Regions from separate parts of the Homo sapiens genome. Here all the other regions are reported to be linked to region 1. Evidence: microRNA targets listed by miRTarBase, many of them from high-throughput screens and not tested one by one. Region 1 holds a microRNA gene; each other region holds the end of a gene's coding sequence. Distances are between the middles of the regions.

The links. The annotated mature microRNA hsa-miR-4526 reads GCUGACAGCAGGGCUGGCCGCU and lies in region 1 at 2,548-2,569, opposite strand. An mRNA with a match to its seed (bases 2 to 7 or 8) in the 3' UTR can be bound and repressed. Matches are read on the target gene's strand: a 7mer-m8 pairs with bases 2 to 8, a 7mer-A1 pairs with bases 2 to 7 and ends in A, and an 8mer does both.
Region 2: the mRNA of PIGQ is a reported target of hsa-miR-4526. The part of its 3' UTR that is shown has no 7-base or 8-base seed match.
Region 3: miRTarBase lists CCNT1 as a target of hsa-miR-4526. The part of its 3' UTR that is shown has no 7-base or 8-base seed match.
Region 4: miRTarBase lists TMEM200C as a target of hsa-miR-4526. Seed matches in the 3' UTR shown: 7mer-A1 at 747-753.
Region 5: miRTarBase lists INTS2 as a target of hsa-miR-4526. Seed matches in the 3' UTR shown: 7mer-m8 at 2,595-2,601.

What each region holds. Positions count from the first base shown.
Region 1 is chr18:13,609,617-13,613,735 of GRCh38, reverse strand. MIR4526 (microRNA 4526) reads right to left here and starts at 2,622; the gene lies at 2,536-2,622. The region is part of intron 4 of LDLRAD4 (low density lipoprotein receptor class A domain containing 4); the gene reads right to left. RefSeq lists enhancers at 1-462, 883-1,112.
Region 2 is chr16:582,168-586,286 of GRCh38, reverse strand. PIGQ (phosphatidylinositol glycan anchor biosynthesis class Q) reads right to left here. Exons shown (of 11, transcript NM_004204.5): 10 at 3,978-4,039; 11 at 2,178-3,404. The coding sequence ends at 3,252. Among named protein-coding and RNA genes, the nearest start is that of RAB40C, 5.8 kb to the left of the region's middle. RefSeq lists enhancers at 1,618-2,373, 2,374-3,130.
Region 3 is chr12:48,689,217-48,693,335 of GRCh38, forward strand. CCNT1 (cyclin T1) reads right to left here. Exons shown (of 9, transcript NM_001240.4): 9 at 1-4,119. The coding sequence ends at 3,817. Among named protein-coding and RNA genes, the nearest start is that of KANSL2, 9.0 kb to the left of the region's middle.
Region 4 is chr18:5,886,652-5,890,770 of GRCh38, forward strand. TMEM200C (transmembrane protein 200C) reads right to left here. Exons shown (of 2, transcript NM_001395400.1): 2 at 1-4,119. The coding sequence ends at 3,547. MIR3976HG (MIR3976 host gene) reads left to right here. Exons shown (of 10, transcript NR_172496.1): 8 at 870-1,071; 9 at 2,429-2,522. Among named protein-coding and RNA genes, the nearest start is that of TMEM200C, 6.8 kb to the right of the region's middle. RefSeq lists a silencer at 3,912-4,119.
Region 5 is chr17:61,863,934-61,868,052 of GRCh38, forward strand. It overlaps INTS2 (integrator complex subunit 2), which reads right to left. Exons shown (of 25, transcript NM_001351695.2): 24 at 3,900-4,076; 25 at 1,434-3,793. The coding sequence ends at 3,624. Among named protein-coding and RNA genes, the nearest start is that of BRIP1, 2.5 kb to the left of the region's middle.

The DNA of each region.
Region 1 (4,119 bases):
CTCGAATGCAGACTCCACGAGCCCGTCCAGCTGGAGTGGCATCTCCTCACTTTATGAAAGCCCAAGCCTTCATCCACTACAATTACTTCTCACCACGCATTTTAGAATCTAGAGTTTCATGATCTCTTCAGAAAGAAATTTACCTAAATATGTTCTGATCAAAGATGACTGACAGGATTTTCTAAAAAATCAGCAGAGGAGTAAGAGCAATTATAAACCTTTTAAAAGTCTATCCCTCTGCCATGCTATAAATGGAAAAAAATACATACATAAGCCATAATTCCCCCTATAGGATTCATTTAAAATCCACCCTCACCTCCACCTCCACATTATTAATTTAGGAAAGTGCATCAGAAAAAAAACACAGCTGCACATGGAATGGAACCTTCATTTCCACAGGGGAGAGTGGTGGCTTCTGAGGCTCTCATCCCACAGCCAGTCTGTCTGTCTCTCACTTTCTTTGGCTCTCTATCTCTCAGAGTCACAGTTCTCCTTCCTAATAGCTCCTGTCACTACATGGATGACCTAAGAAAGTGTTCAATGAACCAGCCACATCCTGAGAAATACCTTTTCTTTAAAATGCAGTTTTCAGCTCATGAGGGTGAAGAAAAAGGAATTATTAACAAGTAGCAGAATTTCCAGGGGAGGTCTCAGCCTTATATACAGACATTTGAAAAAAACAAAACTCCAAAGCAACAAACTGTGTACTCATGCATAACACCTCCAACAGGAACAAACTAATTCCAGGCTTGAAAGAAGATGAAAAAGCCTGACATGCATCTTCCTAAAGGGAGTCCCACCCGGAAATGTTCTGAGTTGACAGACCCCTCTTAGGTAGAAAGAAACTTCTTGAGAAAGAGCTTCTCCTCTTCTCAGCTCTGTCCTCAGACCAAACTCCAAGAAGAACCACAGCAAACCCGAAAGAGCATGCATCATCCATAGCAGTTCTTGGGAAATGTACCTTTTTTTAAGAACAGGTCTTTGAACTGAGCCTCCTTCAGTGTGCTGTTGTTCAGGTGGTCACTGGACATAATCAGGTCCTCTGCAAGTGGGAGTCCAACTGTGACGCAGCCCCCCCACGTTCAAAGCATCCCTTCAGCTTCCGGCAATCTCCTCTCCAGGCAGCTCAGAGCTGCAGTTATAGCTGGCATGGGGTGTGGGAGAGTGTGTGAGCGTGGAGGGGGGGGGGGTGTGTTTCTGTCTGCCTCGTTCACTCTCTCTCTACTGTATCAGCAGGGCCCACCCCAGGTGCTAGACTCAAATGCTGTGGCTCCGACCGCAGACTGTGGCTACCAATTATCAACTGCCATCAACAGAAACCAGGAGCTCTGCGGCAGGAAGCCGGCCGTGTCACCGAGCAGAGAATAAGTCCGGGGTCTCCGATCCTGAGACCAGCTGTACACCCAGGGCACTACTGTTTACAGCAACGTCTATCAGTGAGCAGTCTGCACTTCTCAGGTTTGGCCTCACACCTGGACGTGTCACACACACAGGCAAGCAGAACGCAGCTAGACGGCTCATCTTGTCACACTGCGTTCAGTAATCTTTTCAACAGGCAAATATCAAACCAGTCCAGACAGAAAGGAGGAAATCTGCAAGTCTCACACAATACTCCTTCCCTTGATCTCTGCTGGAAGCTTTCAGTGTGGAAGGACCGGAGAGGGCGCTTACCAAGGCAGGACACGCGACAGGCGGGACGCTCACGTTAGGCTCGCGTGCTTCTCCCCTGCAGATCCGCTCCCAGAGCGTGCTCGCCCGGCTGGGAGCACCCACAGCGTCCCTCAGGCTGCGAGCCAGGCTGCGGGCTGTCCTCTTCTGGTGCTCCCTCTCCACATCCTCTAACTGATGGGAGCAGCTCCCAGCGGCTCTTGCCACCGAGCTCTGTACTGGCAAGGCGTGAGGTCCTAACCGCAGCAGGAAACACTGCGCGCTCCTTTCCCCCCGGCTCGCTCTTCCCTCTTGGCTCTCCCATTCATTCCCTCTCCCTCTGCCTCACATCATTATTCCCCATGTATGGTAGCACAAAAACACCACAGAGACTCCTTCAAAGTCAGGATGCTCAATGTTCCTAGGCAGTTTTAGTTTATAAGGATCAGAAATTAGAGAACAGAATCCCAGGCAATTCAAACATGAAAGCAGAGACATGTCTCAGGAGGGCGCTTTCTCCTGGTTCATTTTGTTCAAGCACAGTCTCTTTTCCCCGAGGTCTAAACAGTTTGTTTCATCTGAGTGTAAAACATCTCCCGTGCATTCGGATGCCCCCAGGCTGTGTGAAGAAAATTCAGGGCAGGCTGCGAGTCTGTCGCAGTTTTCAGAGAAAATCACGGGGTGGCCGTGGTGGAAAGGGCAGCCTGCCATGGTAACGCTGCAAATAACCCCCACCACAAGCACTGCCGGGAGCCCAGAATAGCCTTTGTTTTTCCTTATTTAGGGTAAATAGGAATGACATGTGGGCCATAACAATAGTTTTGGCTGTAGGAGGAGTTGTCAAAGCAAAACTAAACTCTGTTGGTTACTACCAGCGTTAGAAGCCAGGACAGTGACGTTAGCGGCCAGCCCTGCTGTCAGCCCAGCACGTCACCTGGGGCATGACAGCAGGGACTGGGCCCTGATGTCACCGCAGGGTCCTCCAGGTGGCTAGAAGACATCACTTTCTCATGTTCTCATTTTTGGGGGCAGGGGCAGAAAAGCAACAGAAGAACCACCCAGAAGAGTTTCCAGAAGCTTCACGTGGATAAAAGGAAACCAGAGAATTTCAGCAAGGAAAGTGACCATTTATTAATATACAGCCGCGAGGGAAATCCGGATGGTATGATTCTTCCTGAGCAATTTCCGAATTAAAAATGGAACTCCCCTCCCTGTGCCAGACTTTCCCTGACTTCTCAGAGTCACCCTGCTGGGTGAATGAAGAGGGAGTCACCCTCAGAAAGAGGCAGCTTCAGAAAGAATTAGAAGCTGCAGCCACTTCAAGCCGCCCCTCCCTGGCTACCAGCGCCCCTTGTCCCTGGAGCCCCGAGGCTCCTTGCCACCTGGGCCAGCACTTCCTGGTCAGGCTCAGTCACATGATAGGCTTGCCCTCAAGCCAGGGCCTTAGTGAGGAGCGCTGTAGGCCACTGTACCTGTCTGTTTCTTAAAATTAGGGCTTTGTGGGGCAGGCACGGTGGCTCAAGCCTGTAATCCTAGCACTTTCGGAGGCCGAGGTGGGCGGATCACCTGAGGTCAGGAGTTCAAGACCAGCCTGGTCAACATGGCGAAACCCGTCTCTACTAAAAATACAAAAATTAGCCAGGTGTGGTGGCACACGCCTGTGATCCCAGCTACTCAGGAGGCTGAGGCAGGAGAATTGCTTGCAACTGGGAGGTAGAAGTTGCCATGAGCCAAGATAGGGCCACTTCACTCCAGCCTGGGCGACAGAGTGAGACTCCGTCTCAAAAAAAAAAAAAAAAAAAAAAAAAAAAAAAAAAAAAAAATTAGGGCTTTGGTGAACTTCATGGAACTGGAAAAGTTCTTCTCTCCTTTGCTAATGAACATATTTGCATTTTGAAATGGTTATAAATAGCCCGCTCTGGGATTTAACATGGTGTAAAATGAATATTTCATATATAAAAAAAGAAAATCAACATTTTTTTCTTTCATTTAACGGCCATCAGCTATTCCCCAGTGTCTCAACACACTTACTGTGTTTGGCTAGCTTCCCTGTCACTGGGCATCTTGGCCATGGGAGCCAATCTTTTTCTTTTCTTTTTTCTTTTTTTGGATGCAGTCTTGCTGTGTCGCCCAGGCTAGAGTGCAGTGGCGAAATTTCTGATTACTGCAACCTCTGTCTCCCCGGTTCAAGTGATTCTCCCACCTCAGCTTCCCGAGTAGCTGGGATTACAGGCGTGCGCCAACATGCCGGGCTAATTTTTGTAATTTTTGTATTTTTAGTAGAGATGGGGTTTCACCATGTTGGCCAGGCTGTCCTGGAACTCCTGACTTCAAGCGACCCACCAGCTTCGGCTTCTCAGAGTTCTGGGATTACAGGTGTGAGCCACCACGCCCGGCCATGGAGCCGATCTTAATTAAGCTCCTTGCCCACTCAGTTTAATGTTCTCACAGTTCAACCTGTTTAAAAACCAC
Region 2 (4,119 bases), not on the chromosome of region 1:
AAAATGGGCAGCTGACTCAAATGGTGCAGAAAAACATAAAGAATGTGCTGGCTGGGCCCGGTGGCTCACACTTGTAATCCCACCACTTTGGGAGGCCGACGCAGGCACATGGCTTGAGCCCAAGAGTTTGAGACCAGCCTGAGTAACACGGTGAAACCCCATCTCTACTAAAAGTACAAAAATGAGCCAGGCGTGGTGGTGGGTGCCTGTAATCCCAGATAGTCAGGAGGCTGAGGTGGGAGAATCACCTGAGCCCAGGAAGGTTAAGGCTGCACTCCAGCCTGGAAAATAGAGACCCGCTCTCAAAAAAAAAAAAAAAGAAAAAATGTGAAAACATACACATGGCATGTGGTCGTGGGGGGATGTAGGTGAAGGGTGCTGGAAGCATCTGTGTTATTCTCACAGCATTTCTGTAAGTCTGAATCTGTGAAGTACTGGTGAGACCCTTCTCTGTGGGCGGCCCCAACTCTGAAAGGGAAGGTGTCTGCTTCTGAGGGTGCCCTGAGGGTCCATAAATGGTCCTGGGCAGGCCTTGGAAAAGCTCCAGCCCATTGCCCTGTCTGGGTCGGCAAGGCAGGGGGGACCAGAGCTCTGGTGGAGGGATGAGGGGCACCCCACAGGTGTAGGCTGTCTCCAGGCAGGGGCTGTGCAGCAAGGACAGACGGAGCCTGCAGGTGCAGGCGGCACCTCTTGGTGGCTGCGAGTGGCTGGGGTGACGGTGTTCCATTGGCCAGCTCTGGCGCCAAACCTAGCTGGCCCTCGGGATAGGCAGTCAGCCCAGTGCCCAGCAGAGGGGGTGACCGCTGCCAGGCACGACCCATGACATGGCCATCACAGAGCAGTGGACTGAGCTGTGTCAAGACCTTGACCTGGTGGAAGCCCCAGGAGGCGTGGCAGCCCAGTGAGCAGCTGGGGGGAGTGGGAGGTACAGGTTGGGGGTGTTGGTGGACCCGGTGGGCAGCTGGGGGGAGCGGGAGGCACAGGTTGGGGGTGTTGGTGGACCCGGTGGGCAGCTGGGGGGAGCGGGAGGCACAGGTTGGGGGTGTTGGTGGACCCGGTGGGCAGCTGGGGGGAGCGGGAGGCACAGGTTGGGGGTGTTGGTGGACCCGGTGGGCAGCTGGGGGGAGCGGGAGGCACAGGTTGGGGGTGTTGGTGGACCCGGTGGGCAGCTGGGGGGAGCGGGAGGCACAGGTTGGGGGTGTTGGTGGACCCGGTGGGCAGCTGGGGGGAGCGGGAGGCACAGGTTGGGGGTGTTGGTGGACCCGGTGGGCAGCTGGGGGGAGCGGGAGGCACAGGTTGGGGGTGTTGGTGGACCCGGTGGGCAGCTGGGGGGAGCGGGAGGTACAGGTTGGGGGTGTTGGTGGACCCGGTGGGCAGCTGGGGGGAGCGGGAGGTACAGGTTGGGGGTGTTGGTGGACTTGGTGGGCAGCTGGAGGGGGAGTTGGGGGTACAGGTGGAAAGGGTGGGGGGCGAGGTGGGCAGCTTTGGGGGACAGGGGACACAGGTGGGAGGGGTGGCAGGCCAGGTGGGCAGCTGGTAGGAGCAGGGTAGGCCAGGTAGGCAACTGGAGGGTGAGTGGGGGAGAGTACAGATGGGAGGGGTGGTGGGCCAGGTGGGCAGCTGGGGGGAGGCAGGGGACACAGGTAGGGGGTTGGTGGGCCCTGAGTGCCTCTGGTTGCCTGGAAGTCCAGGTTGGATGGAGGCCTGTACACTTCGGGCTGGGAACGGGCTGTGGGGCCCGCCAGCTGGGCCCCCAGCACTGCAGGCGACAGAGACCATTCTTAGCAGCTGTGGCAGTCGCAGGCTGTACTGGGCCAGGACCCACGAGGGGCCCACCCCACATGGAGTCCACAGATTCAGAGCAGGAGCTGCTCGCCCCACCCCTGGAGGCCTACACCCCTGCACCATCTATGTCGAGGCAAGGCCACGACCCCAGGGTGGGCGGCCCCCAGGGTGGGCGGCCCGGGTTCACCTGCCTACACCAAAGTCCTCAAGGGCCCAGGGCCTGTGAGCCCGTCCCATCAGCCGTCGTCAGGGCCTCCAGCAGGAGGCCGGTGTAGACTCTGCAGGGCAGACCCACGTGAGGCAGCCCAAGTCCCTCGAGTAGCGTCCACACACCCCCCCCCCAGAGCTTCCCTGGACCCGCGCTGCACATGGACCCGGGACCGAGCCTGCGCTCCAGACACGGGGCAGGTTTTATTGTCACAGCAGCTGACGGCTTCCCCGGTGCTGGGTTGCCAGGGAGTCCCAGGCAGTCCTGGTGCTGCTGAGATGGGCGCTGCCTCCTCCCACCCACAGCGCGTCATCCCCTCACCAGCCGGCACCTGCAGGCTCCCCTCCTGAAGCGGACTCGGGCTCACAGGGAACACCCGCACCCAGACCGTGCCGTCTGGCAGGCACTTTCGGCCTCAGTGCCACGGCCCCCTCCCCAGGCCACTCACACTCCTGGGGGGCCACAGAGGTGTCTGCACAGCAGGGCTTCCTCCTTCCCTGGGAGGCCCATGAAGGGAGACAGATTTGGCCGCAGGACCTGCTGCTACGGGGCACCGTGGACGAATAGGTACGGCTGGGTCAGTGGGCGGGCCCTTGACACTGAGGCTGCTCCCGCCCCCACAGCAGCCTGGCGATGCTCACAGCCTGCTGATGGTTTCTTCACAAAGCGACCTCTCCAGGGAACATCCGCAAATAAACCCCGTGTGGTTCAGGGAGTGAGGGCCCGGGCCCGCTGGGGACGGGGGTCAGCGACTGCTTCAATCCCCCAGATGCAGGGTGCTGTTCGGCTGAGGGAGCTAGAGGGTGCCTGGGACTGGGGGGTTCATCCTGGCAAGGTCCCTCCACCCCCACAGCCAGGGCAGAGCCACTGGGGAGCCCCCAGGGAGACCAGCCCTCCACCTGGGGCTGCTGTGGTGGACGGACCCTCTGGACCTGGGTACACAGGGTGGGCATGGGGCAGTGCTCTGGACACCTGGGGTTGCTGTGCTCGCCACCATGGTGACCGCAGCAGGTGGGAAGCGGGTCCCAAGGCAGGCAGTGCCAGTGATGGAGTGCGGCCAGCCTGGCTGGCCACCCCCACATCTGCTCACTCCCAATGACCTCCAAGCCCAAGGTGTGATAGCAGGGCCTGCCGTGTTCAGGAGCACACAGCAGCGTCCACAAAGCACAGGACATGCGCCAGCTGAGCTGGTGCCACCCTGGCAGAGCAGATGGCTGGCTGTGGCCGTGTGGTGGTGCCAGGCGAGCCAGCAGTTCCCTCAGTCCTGCTTGTCCCCTCTCTGCCTCCAGGGGTAGATGAGCTCCCCAAGGAACAGCTTGCGGCACAGGGCGCCCCAGGAGTGCTTGGGGTGGCAGCCACAGCTGGGGAGGCGGTAGGTGTGCACCACGCGGCTGTAGGGCAGTGGGTTTATCTGGAAGGACAAGGGCAGCGGTCAGTGGGGTGGTCTGAGCTCCAACCCCGTCTGCAGAGAGAGGGTGGGGGCGGGCAGTTGTGAGGCAGGGCCAGTGCTGTCTCAGACATTCCCTTGCCTGTGGGAGAAGCCAGTCCCAGTTCCCAAGGAGGCAAGTGAGCCTGCAGCCAGAAGGGAGCGCTGGGGGGAGGCAGAAGCTGCATCTCCCCTCGGGGCTGCCCAACTCTGAGGGGCCGTGCCACAGGGACGCACACCCCACCCCAGGACTCACTCAGTCGGTTCTGTTCCACCCAGAACTTGAGCCCTGTGGGGCCCAGGGCAGCCCCAGCCAGCCAAGGGCGCCTCCGACACAGGGCAGAATGGGCCCCATCCACAGGACCACACCAGTGTCCTCAGGCCCTGGGGGTAAGGGGGAGGGGGTCCCGCGTGGGCCTTCCCCCTCAGCTCCACTGGGCCCTCCCTGTACCTCATCGCAGGCTGGCGTGGTGCCACCCAGACACTACACCCAGCTGACCCCACCGTCCCAGAACAGGGGCAGCAGCGTAGGGGCGTCCTGGCCACAAGGGGCCTCACCTGCATCAGGAGGCGGAGGGGCCTGCCGGCCTCGTGCCGGAGGACACGGAACTTCACGCCAGCTGCAAGGATAGCAAGCGGCTGACGAGGGGACGCGTGGGGGCTGGCCCCACACATGAGCAGAGGCTGCAGGTACCTTCCT
Region 3 (4,119 bases), not on the chromosome of region 1:
CTTTACCTCCCTTTTCCAATGCCAAGTTCATATGAAAAACTTTAGAAACATTAAAATGGAGAACTCTCTCACCCAAAAAGTAATTCTCATTCCAGACTACTCTATCAGGCAGGATTACTGTACCGTGCTTGTTTCAAACTCACATCCACGGAGGGATAAAAAGACAAAATAAAACTTGACAGTGTGATACAACATGAAAATCTCCTAAACCATCAGGAGCAAACACTCAGTTAAAAGCTGGGTGTTAACAAGCAGCAACTCAAGAAACTTGGGGAGGTATCAAAGTCACTGAAAGCTTACTGGAACCTCGGAGGGCTATTTCTCACCATTTGATGAGTTGCATAGACTGCTTAAATTCTCCCAAGACCAAAAGAATAAAATTTGTATTTCAACTGCAAGATGTTCTAGATTCTCTCTTTTCTTAGTATCAAAATAACTCATAAACAAAAAAAATTGTAAATATTAATCAGTTCCCAAAATAACGGAAACACAGATATGTTTAAAATCCAACCATACTGGGATAGACAGGGCCCCTCTACAATTGCCTTTACTTGGAAGCCATGTATGTGGAGGAGTATGCATTTCAATATGGAGAATTAAGTAGCAGAGGTTTAAGATAACTCAGCAGTGATGTCACCATGATTTTATTTCCATATCCTAATCCATTGCTGTTTGCAACTGGAGATTTAAAATTTTTCTGTCAACACTGGTAAAGCCAATAATACTGAACTATGTAGTATACACTAAATCAAAACACTAAAATCATTTTTAAAAAGGAAGAAAAAAGAAGTTGAGGCTCTCTGATATGGACATACACTGATTCATGAATGGGAAGACTAGACTAACACCTAAGTATTTTCTAAACTCAAAAGCATAACTGATACTTCAGAAGACCGATTTGGATCGATGCTTCACTACAGTTCAGCTAACAGCAACACAGGTATCTGATTAAAAGCCTTAAGGACAATCCACAGGTATTTGTTTTTGCCAACACGAGTCTAGCAAAATTTTAGGAATGAGATTTACAGAAGCTGAGGCTCCAGGCCTACTTATCACCATCACTTATTTTTGACAGTCTAGGTTACATGGAGAAACAAAAAGCCATATTTATCAGACTAACTTTGGATGTATAAATCTCATTTCTCACCCTTTGAAGGTACAAGGATAGGAAAGACACATAGAGCTCAGAAACCACACAGCCCTTAAAAACCTTAAGTTTATGGAATTTGGACAATACACATGCTAGTTGACAGGCACATCTGTTAACCCAAAAACAAAGCAGCAGCTTCATGCAGAGCCCACAAGGAGCTTCATGACATATGCATAGATCTAAAAACAGACACTGTACGTATCTTAAGACAGTACCAGGAGGCATTAACACAGAAAGGTCTCTAAACTGACCTATGTCAGCAATGATCTACTAGTGCAAAGGCCGGACTACACGGCACAAAGCAACTCTTAGGCCCTAGTAAGCACTTTTTTCTAGTTCACTCCTGGCAAAGTTCTAAGGAACTTTACTACAGTACGGCCATGGATAACTGCTATGAGGCCAAATGATTATGTGCCTCTGTGGTAAAGGAGTGCATGTGATTAGAAAATATGTGACATTTGATGAGAGTAACTAAAAGCTGGAAAAGACATTTTTCAAAATCAAACCAGTGATCATCAAGTCCACAAAGATACAGATGCAGACTAAATGGCACATTCCCTTTTGGAAACAGACTCCAACAAACAAAATCTAAATAAATAGAAGCCCTAAATGTACTAAACCACAACTATATATCTACCAATTATCTAACACAACATAGAAAATATCAAGGGGAAAGAGGAAAATGTCATCTATAAAGTGAAGTGACACTCTAAGTCAAGAAGTATTAATGATTTACAGGTCAACAGAGAGCTCCTCGTTTTATACCCAGCAATGGCAGGAACTCTAGACAGTTCAAATATGCAAGATGCAGGGCACTAACCCACCGTCAGTTAACGTTTACTCCTGCCTACAAATTCCTTTCTATATTAGGCCAGTACATCATCAATTCCAACAGCCACAATTTTCTTCCCAACCTGTTCCTGGCAAGTAGCAGCATAAGTACAACTCCTGTCTCCCTATGACTTCCAAATGAAAAATAATTCGACCTCTCCCTAAAAAATCCTTGGCATGAAGTAAGCTGCAATCAAATCATGAAAACAAACTCAAATTGAACCACCTTTTCCAGAGCAAAAAAAATGCAATGAAGATCAAAGAATATCTCATTAAATGATCTCTGGCTAGGTAGTTTTCAGTGGTTAGACAACTAACTTAGAATTCTTTCTAGCCAAGATTTTCTGAAAGATTTATTAAAAATGTTCACTCCTAATATCTGGGATAATCAAGCCTCCATAACAACAGGACTCTTGACCTATTTTTATAAAGGACTTAGAAATCTTAAGAACCTCGATCAAGAACCTAAAGCTACCAAAGATGAACAATCTAAACACAATAGTATCCATTGGCTAGGCTTTGCTCATTCTCATGGCACCAGTACTGTTAAATTCACAAGCTCCAATCTCAAGTCATATAGGCTGCAAAAACTTGAGGATGTAGCTGTTTCCCTTCGGATATACACATAAAAAGCATGTCTTACATTTATAATGTAATTTTTAAAACAATGTTCTAAACTTCCAAATCACAATTTCATTGTTTTTAGTATCCTCTAGCTTCTCCCATATGGTTTGGGCTTTCACAGGCAGGATATACATAGCACATTCCCCATCTCTTAGAGACCTTAAGACTGCTCTCATTTGAACACTTTCCCAAAGCCTCACTTGAAAAAAAAGACACACCCAATTCTGTAGGGCAGAAGCTGGCCTTGCTCGCCAACCCTCCTTCCTCAACCCCATCTCTGTTTTGCACAAAAACAAAAAAAGGGGTAAAAAGGAAGTTCTCATAATAAGGTTAAGAGTCAGGGTGTTGGCTGTACTTGCCCAAACTACAAATTAGAGGGCTACTACTCAATTATAACATAAAGAAAGGGAAAAATACCATGTCAAATACATGCCTCTTCCTTTATGTTCTCAAGGCCAACCATGTTTTTCTCTAGTAGACTGTTGGAAAATGAAAACGGTAAGGAACAGGGAGGGAAGATAAAACATTATTTTTAAACACACACACTTAAAAACACACATACCCACACTTACATACACACTTAAAAGTCTGAAAAAAGTGGCCTGAGCCTATTTCAGAACTCCTAGCCAAAAACCTAGCCTCCCACCCACCCTCACACATTCCCACCCTCCAATCCCACCCACCAGGAGTTACTGCTATGTATCATATACACACAGCAAAATCCCTATCCCCTTCCCAATTATATAAAAAAACTAAACAGATAACTTACTTTCTTTAAATTATTAAGTCTATTAAAAGATTTGACGTTTAAATACTTCCTCTCTTCTGATATATTAAACACCGAAAGGATCCACAATTGTCTGATACAAGAAACCCTCCATTTTTCAGCTCTGGCAAGAAGAGGGAAGATATCAACTCCAATCAACCTAATTAGATGGTGGAGAGGCCAAGAATTCAGAATGTGTCCTTAATCCTTCACAGCTTCAACACCTCTCTAATACCAGTAAAAACTGTAAGAAAATAGTTAAATGCATGAGACAGCAGATATATAGCCAAGGCCTTCTACCACCCTCCTAACTATGTCTCAATATCAATTTATTCCCTAGTCCAAGGATGACATATTTCATAAGTAATTTTCTTAGTCCAAAAAAAAAAAAGAAAAATTATGTGTTTTTTTAAAGAAGTTTTTTTCTCCTCTTCTTTTTCTTTTTTTACTTAGGAAGGGGTGGAAGTGGTGGAGGAGGTTCTGATGGCAGAGGTGGTGGCCGGGGTTTGTCTGTATTGCCAGATCTCGAGGAGATTCCACCAGACCGAGGATTCAGATAGTCACTATAAGGACGAACAAATTCAAATGCAGTGGGCTGAGTGGGCTGAACACCCTGGGCACTGAGCAGGGAGTGAAGCATATTCACAGTGTCTTGATAGTCTATTGTCTGGGTCGTGTTGTGACCATTGGCCCCAGTGGGCCCTTTATCCAGTTTCGAATGAGGGACACGAGTTTTACAGCTGGGCTG
Region 4 (4,119 bases), 7.7 Mb from region 1:
TTATGTGCCAGGAGTTGTTCTAAGTCCTTTAATTATATTAGTTTATTTAGTCCTCATTTAAATAATTAATTCTATGTGCCAAATTCCATTTATTATCTCCATTTACTAGATGTGAAGACCCAGTTATAATGTTATATAACCCCCTAAGTCACACTTTGAGCCACTATGCTATGTTGCCTTATACTTTAGATTTTTAAGCCTAAAATTATTCTATTAATAAAAAGGAAGGTCATATGAAGTAATTGTTTAGCAGTTGATTCTATTTTAAATAAAAGGAACAAACCTTTGTATAATACTCTCTATGTTCCAAGCCCATTATAAGCACTTTACACAAATATTAGTTCATTTAATCTTTACTCCAGTCCTGTAAGATAGGGACATTATTATTCCTATAGTGTGGAAAAGGAAATTGAGACACAGAGAGACTATGTAACTTGTCCATGGTCACCCAGCTGGTACATGACAGAAATTCAGGGAAAAAATACCATCACACCAATTGTTGCAATTATTTTAATTTAACATTCGAGTCCTGCCACTGCTGTTTGTCTCAGAATAAATTGTTCCATCTTTCTAAATCTTAGAAACCTCATTTATAAATTAAAGGTGGGGGGATTCTATCATCTATAAGGCCCTTTCAAATACTCTTATTTATTGTGTACAAAAACCCCTGAAAAGTCACTTACAAAAAAACTTGTTCATGCCCGTCTGAAGATTTACGAACTCCAGCTTTTTATCTGACTGTGCATTCTGACAATTTTCTGCATTTCTCTAAGAATGGTCTGGAAAGGGATCTGGCAGGAAATAAAGAATATATAAAGTATTTTGATGGTCTCCAGAAATGCCCATTTCAACTCAGCATCTGCCGACAGGTCTACCTAATCTTCCAAACTCTGTGTAAATCCTGGATCCACCATTTACCAGCTGTGTAACCCTGGACAACAATTCCATCTTTCTGACCTCAGTGTCTTTCTCTGCAAAACAGCGGTAAGAATGATCCTACTTCAATAGAGTTGCTGTGAGGATTCACTGAGATCATGTGTACCAAGCTCCTACAATAGTACTGAACCCACAGTAAGTACTGAGTGAAAATTAGCATTATTGCAGATTTCTGCTCCTATGAAAGTTACGATTGTGAATTACTACACTTATACACTTCCTCTGAAGTCTAAAGAAATCACAGGCTCCTCCCAAGATTTGGAAAATTGAGCTCATCTTTGTCTATCTTCAGAAAAAAAATCTAGTTAAATTGTTCAATGGTTAAGTTAGATATTATCTGATATGGAACTAAGTTTGTGAGATATAAACAGTATTCTGTCCACCCCTCCTTAGTTAAGCTAAGAGGTATTAGCTTTATTATTTGCTAAATGTCACTTAGCATTTGATAAATGTAACATTTACAGTGCATTCTCCGAGGACTGGAAACAGTATTGTAGAACACCAGAACCTGTTTTCCCCTTGAAGTAACACGCTATCTCAGTATATAAATTACCCAGTACCCAAGGTAATGGAGAAGAAAACCTAAGGAAGTTTGACATTTACTTTGGAAGTGTGATAAAGCAATTGAGACTGTTGAAATTTAACACTACCTTGAGGTCTTATTACACTTGCATGTCACTCCTTAGTGCAAACTCACTTTTGCTTTATAGAAGAGCCCAATATATTAATCTACAGCCTTAAAGTGAGTTACCGGTTTAATGCAGATCCAATCTGAGAATAAATTAGGCCCTTTTAAAGTGTATTACAGAATGTTGAGCTAATGGTAATTGACGACGTATATTCACTCTTTGCCAAGTTGTAGGTACAAATGTGATATGATTACATCCAGGACAAGAGCCTGAATTTAAGTAAGGCTTTTAGAGCTGAAGATCATAGAGATTATATCATCTACCAGAGGCCCAGAGGGATTAAGTGATTTGTCTAAGGTTATACAGATAATAGGTGGATATCCCAGATTTCAGACTAGACTTTCTTGAGCTCAAGTTCAAGGAAGGTCCATTCTTCTACACTATGCATTCAGCAATATATTACAATGGTAATAATAATTACAATAACCCCCATCTATTGAATACATCCTGTGGGCCAAGGGTTCTGGTAAACTCCACACATATAAACCCTCCTCTGACCCTGACCCTGTTCTATTCCTCTCATAGCTCCATGAGATATGTCTGGTTCTCTTCATTTTACAGAAAGATGACTGAGACTCAGAGTTTGTGACTTGTACAAGGCCTCACAGCTAGGAGATGCCAACAGCTGGGTCCAATCTCAGCTCGGAATCTGCACTCTGTCTACAGGACTAGCGCTTTGCCCAAGGAGACCAAAATGAAGACATCTTGTCTCCTGGTCTTGAAAATTAACTAATTCACTTTTAATGACATCAAGTGTAAACAATCTACCAAATTATTAAAACATTATCTTTTTGTCTATGTAGGCCATGGATCAAGACCATTAACTTATAATCAGTGATAGCCAAGAGGATGGGAAGAGAATATTAAGCCTGGTGCTCTGCAAATTAATACTTGCAGGTAAATGAGAAGTATCATAGGCATATTACTATTTACTTAACGTTTCATTCTATTTGAAAGAGAAATTCCCAAATGTTAAATACTACCCTACATTTTAAGCTTAAAAATACGCTGGACATGCGACAATGGTGCTGAGTACTTTGGGGGAAGATCACAACAGTCCTGGTAGCAGTGTCACAGCAAAATATTTCAGAGGTACCAGATGAGCTAGCTCCAAGGCAAATGAGGCAATATTATGTTTAACTGTTTGTTCGGAAACTTCTTTTATTAAAAAAGATTTTAAATATTAATGCTATTTTCAATACAGGTGTGATAACACTCAATAAAGCATGGTGTACTTGATATAAATTTCGGAATGTAACAGTCCATCTAGTTCCTGGTCCCCTCCAGTCTCCACCACATAGCCTAGTAGCAAAACGTACACACCCGTTTAAAAATGAAGAAGCTTTTGGGCATTGGGTGAGCACAGTGGGGTGGGGCAAGGAAAGTGCTCGTTCCTGAATTATTCATGCTTTTGGCTTTGACTTCAGTTAGTAACATCAATTCTAAGAGAACTGAGACAAACTCTTCTATGTTCCGCAAAGGAATGGAGAAAAAAGCCTGCCATTCGCAAGCAGCTGTGGGCAAAACCAGCGCAGAGTACAGGGGTCGGGAAATGAGGGATTAAAAAAAAAAGTCGGAGTAAAGTGCACAGTTACTGTCAAAAATATATTATTTTGATCCTAAGAAAATTAAAAGATTTTATCTAATGGACTAGATTGCTGACCTTTTAATACATTTGGTTTTCATTGAACATACAATCACCATCGGACATAAAAAGACTAGTTTGCTTAAAAAAAAAAATCCTTGGAGTTATCTACAGGAATCTTGTGGACGCAATTCAAGGATAACATTCTGCAGCTCTTTGGATATTGAATGATGTCCTCGGATCAGTCCACAAAAGAAACAGGGACCTGTTAATGCACTGATTCAAGTGGGCGTTTCTCCCATTTTCTCTTTCCTCCTCCCCAACCCACCCCTTTCTCTAAATGCCTGTGCTTTCCAGTTCTTCTTCTACCCCTATGGCATGAGACCTGGAAATCATGATGAGTTTCTCCTTGTTTGTAAACTGCCTCTGCACCGGCTGAGGTTGCTCGGCCGTGGGTGGCTCCTGGCTGGCACCCTCCGGCGAGCTCTGCTCCGCACCCAGAACGGGGGCGGCCACAGCAGAGTCTCGCGTTTGACCAGCTACTGCGTCCAAGACCGACTCGGTGGAGGTGCCGGCCTCCCGCAGGGGTGTGTAGCCCTTATTGCTGCTGGATGGGTCATCCGACTGGGAGCTCCCGGAGTCCCGCCTGGTGGGGGGCGAGCCCTCCAGCCGCAGGGGTGGCGAGGGGGAGGCGGCCTTGGCCAGAGGGCTGGAGTCCGGGTCCGCACTCCCCGGGGAGGGCGGGGGCTCGGGGGACGGCGGCGCCCGGTAGTCCGGGAGCCCGCTGGTGCTGCGGCGCCGCAAGGCCGCGTACCTGCCGGTCCTGGGCAGGCGGCCGCCCTGCCCCCTGGCGGCGCGCGCCGCTACCGCGCCCTCGGGCTCCTCCGGCTCCCGGCGCGCCCCGCGCAT
Region 5 (4,119 bases), not on the chromosome of region 1:
GAAGACTCAGGCGGGAATTGCCAGACTGCTGAGCCAAACTTAAGTAAGAAGGCTCTGTGACATCGGGCTACAATCTATCTTTCATAATATTCAAGGCTTTCCCGGATGCTAAAATAAGCCAGAGACAAGCTCTCAGGGTCTCCAGTATCAGATCACTTCTACTTCCATTAAGGCTTATCCGCCTTCCATCCCTCCTAAGACCAGTTTATTATTTGCCAGTAGTACTTTAATTTACTCAAAGAAAAGGAGGTTCATCATGATCTTGCCAAATCATGTTATTTTTTTAAAAAATCTGTATAACCTAAACTTGGCTCAAATAATAATGTCTCCAAAAGGCAAAACCTCATACTGTTTCTCAAATTCAAGTAACTAGTTTGGGGAAGGAGTTTGCTGGGAAGAAAGAGCAGGAGGGGGCTAGTTGATTTGTTTGCCTCATTGTCAATTGTGATATATCTTACCAAAAATGACAAAACTTGTAGTCATAAAAATAAACTCTACCCTTTGACCTAGTAATCTGAGCTCCAGATATTTATCCTAAAGACGTAATCTAAACGAAAGAAAATGTGATACCGCAATTGACAATAATATCTATTGGTAATACTGAAAAAAATTATGAACTTCCCAGTCTAGTAATATGGAGGTGGTTATGACAGATGAATTCAATACATTATGAAGCCAATAAACTTATAAAAATTAAACTTGCAAGAAAAAATCCCATATAAGGTTAAGTGAAAAAAGGCAAAGCAAACCCCAAACTGGGTGTTAGGGATTCAGTAATGTGAAAATACATATGAATGAGCAAAGATGAAGTAATTTACTGTTAAGACAATGAAAGGAAGGATAATGTTTAAAAATAAATCCTTAAAAATACCTTCAAATTGTCATTTCTCTTTTATAATTTTTAAAACATCAACTCTTGGCCGGGCGCAGTGGCTCACGCCTGTAATCCCAGCACTTTGGGAGGCCGAGGCAGGCGGATCACCAGGTCAGGAGACCAAGACCATCCTGGCTAACACGGTGAAACCCCGTCTCTACTAAAAATACAAAAAATTAGCCGGGCGTGGTGGCGGGCGCCTGTAGTCCCAGCTACTCGGGAGACTGAGGCAGGAGAATGGCGTGAACCCAGGAGGCGGAGCTTGCAGTGAGCCGAGATGGCGCCACTGCACTCCAGCCTGGGAGACAGAGCGAGACTCCGTCTCAAAAAAAAAAAAAATCAACTCTTTTGAGTAACTGCTCTAGTATAACTACTCTCATTTTCCTCTCCTAAATTACTAAGAGTTTCAACTGGCTCTCACCTTGCATTGCCATTTAATGTATGTGGCATAACAGAAAGGGATACACGTAGGCCCTGGAGCCATACAGACCTCGAATACAGTCCCTTGAACCGTTCCCTTCAGGTTAACTCTAGTGGAATGAAACACAAAAACTACAGGTTCGTTTGATAAAGAATATGAATGTTTATAAACCAATATTCAAAATAGCTGCACACATCTGTTTTCACTTGAATAAAAAAACACATTGTGACAAATTTTATAACCTTAACTTAAAATACATGAATATTAACATTTACTAATATATTTACACATTTTATTTACATCATCAACAAATCTGATGAAAAAGAGCATATGTGATTATTTTAACACAGCAGGTTATGACCAGTCTTTGAATATTGATCCAGGAATGTGCACTGCATTTAATTAGAAAACATACTTTTAACTTTTTCTGAACTCCTAGGGCATATCTATTCACACAAAATATCGCAAGGCCTCAGTTTAAAAAAAAAAGGAGCAGTTGTATTTAATCTTAAGGGACTACAAAACTGCCTTGTTTAAAAATATGAAAATTCTTATGCTATTTTTAAGATACTTTTATTACTTTTATTTTTCACATCAAAATTACTTAATTGAACATTAAGCATCTAATAAAAAGTTATAAATATTCTATCACATGTGATACTATGCACTTCATGATTTGAAACAGCTACAAACTCATTCTCATAGAATATGAGGTAGGGCCAGTAGTAACCCCATTTTACAAAGGAAGAAAATGAGATGTGACTATTTACTAGTGAAAAGGCTAAAGTTAAATTTCATTTCTCAAAAACTACACCTTCTTATTAGCCTAATTTCTTTTACAAGTGAAGCGGTCTGGCCAGGTGCGGTGGCTCACACCTGTAATCCCAGCACTTTGGGAGGCCAAGGTGGGCAGATCACCTGAGGCCAGGAGTTCAAAACCAGTCTGGGCAACATGGCAAACCCCCGTCTTTACTAAAAATACAAAAATACAGGTGGCGCGTGCCTGCAGTCCCAGCTACTCAGGAGGTTGAGGCACGAGAATCCCTTGAACCCAGGTGGCAGAAGTTGCAGTGAGCCAAGATCATCCCACTGCACTCCAGCCTGGGCAACAGGGGAAGACTCCACCTCAGGAAAAAAAAAAAAAAAACACAAGTGAAGAGGTCTGTTTCAAGTGGGGGTGGGGAAGTGTGTGATTGAGGTATATCTCAGAGAGAAAAAAGGGAATTACTTTCTACATTGATAATTTTTTTTTAATGATTAGGGTTTACCTGAATATGTCTGCCTAATCAATGGAAGTTACTGACAGAGGACTGCAAAATCCTTCGGCAAGACAATATTTTCTACACTTTAACTTTTCCTCAGGTTCAAACACTGCATTTTCTTACTCAAAGATCTTCTCAAAGTAAGATATGAATTATAATCCTGATGACAAACCAAGAGCTCTTTAATCCAGTGGGTTTTATTGCTCTACCTTCATTTAATTTGATACATATTTCCCCCCTCTGAGCATTAGGTAAGTTAATAAAGCATTATAAAAATAAATTTAAAACATAAAACTAAATGAGATCTCTCAGGTTCTTCTTTGAACAAAGATGTTTCTGTAAACACTTTTACACCAGTATCTTAAAATTCCAAATTATTCAAGTATCTCTTTAAACATATGGCTTCATATATTAATAAAAATTGAAGCAAATATGTGAAATCTTTAAATCCTCATCTGTATTTCCACAGAAATCATTTACAAAAGCTACTTGCCTTTTTAAAAGTCTTCTCAATACTCTTTCTTGAGAACTAGAATTCCAACTTGCATTACTATTACTTGCACTGCAAATCTTTGAGATTTCTACTTGTGTTTTTAACTCCTATTATTTCCTTAATTCTCCTTTCCCTTTACCCTTTTTTCCTCTCCCATCTTTGCATCTTTGTCACATTCTGTTACAAGCTCACAGTTAAAATAAACACTAGGGCTACCCACAGACTCATTTTTATAAGAAATTAAAGGCATGGCAGTCTTCACTTCAAAAGCTAAATACAAGGCCAAATTCCCTTTCCAATAATGAGTTTCTTACATGTGTTCCCAGTGGAAAAAAAAAAAGCTCAGCTGCTACAATAGAAACATATCAGCAAAGTAGATCCAAAGATGTGCCAATCAGAAACAAGCAAGCATAATTCTCATAAAGTTCTAAACTATACTCATGTTGAATTGAATTGTTTTAGTGATTCCAAGACAATACTTTACTGTTCCCATTCAGTTTAGAGTTGTTACTAATATGCAGATTCATGTTGGGTATATGCAGCAAACAACTTTTTGTTGTTTTAAATTTTGTTTTAAATTCCACTAACACTCATATTTATTATTTCAATTACTGTTCTTTCAATACAGTGACAGAGCTGTACATCAGGATCCATGCTTCCAGTGTCCCTGGATCCATTTTTATAAGATGAATCTTTACAGATTTGAGACCATCCACTTGGTTTCTCCTTTATTTGTTGAAGACCTACAACATAAGGGAAAAAAAACATTAAGGCCAAGAAATTTGGAAAGGAATTTGGCCTTTTTGTTTGAGATATTAAGATAACCCTTGAAAATAAGTTACCACTTACGTGTAATAATTGGATCAATGTCTCTTGTCTGAGTGGCAACATCAGAGGCACAAACTTGCCCTATTTGGATCAGCAAAGACATAATATCCTCATACAATGGAGGAAATGCTCGACAAAAAGAGACCAAACTTGGCAGAGTTGGCATAAAAAAAGCATACCGCTTAGCCTGTGTTAAAACTGTTGGAAAAAAATGAAACAATATTTTAGTTTACAAATATAA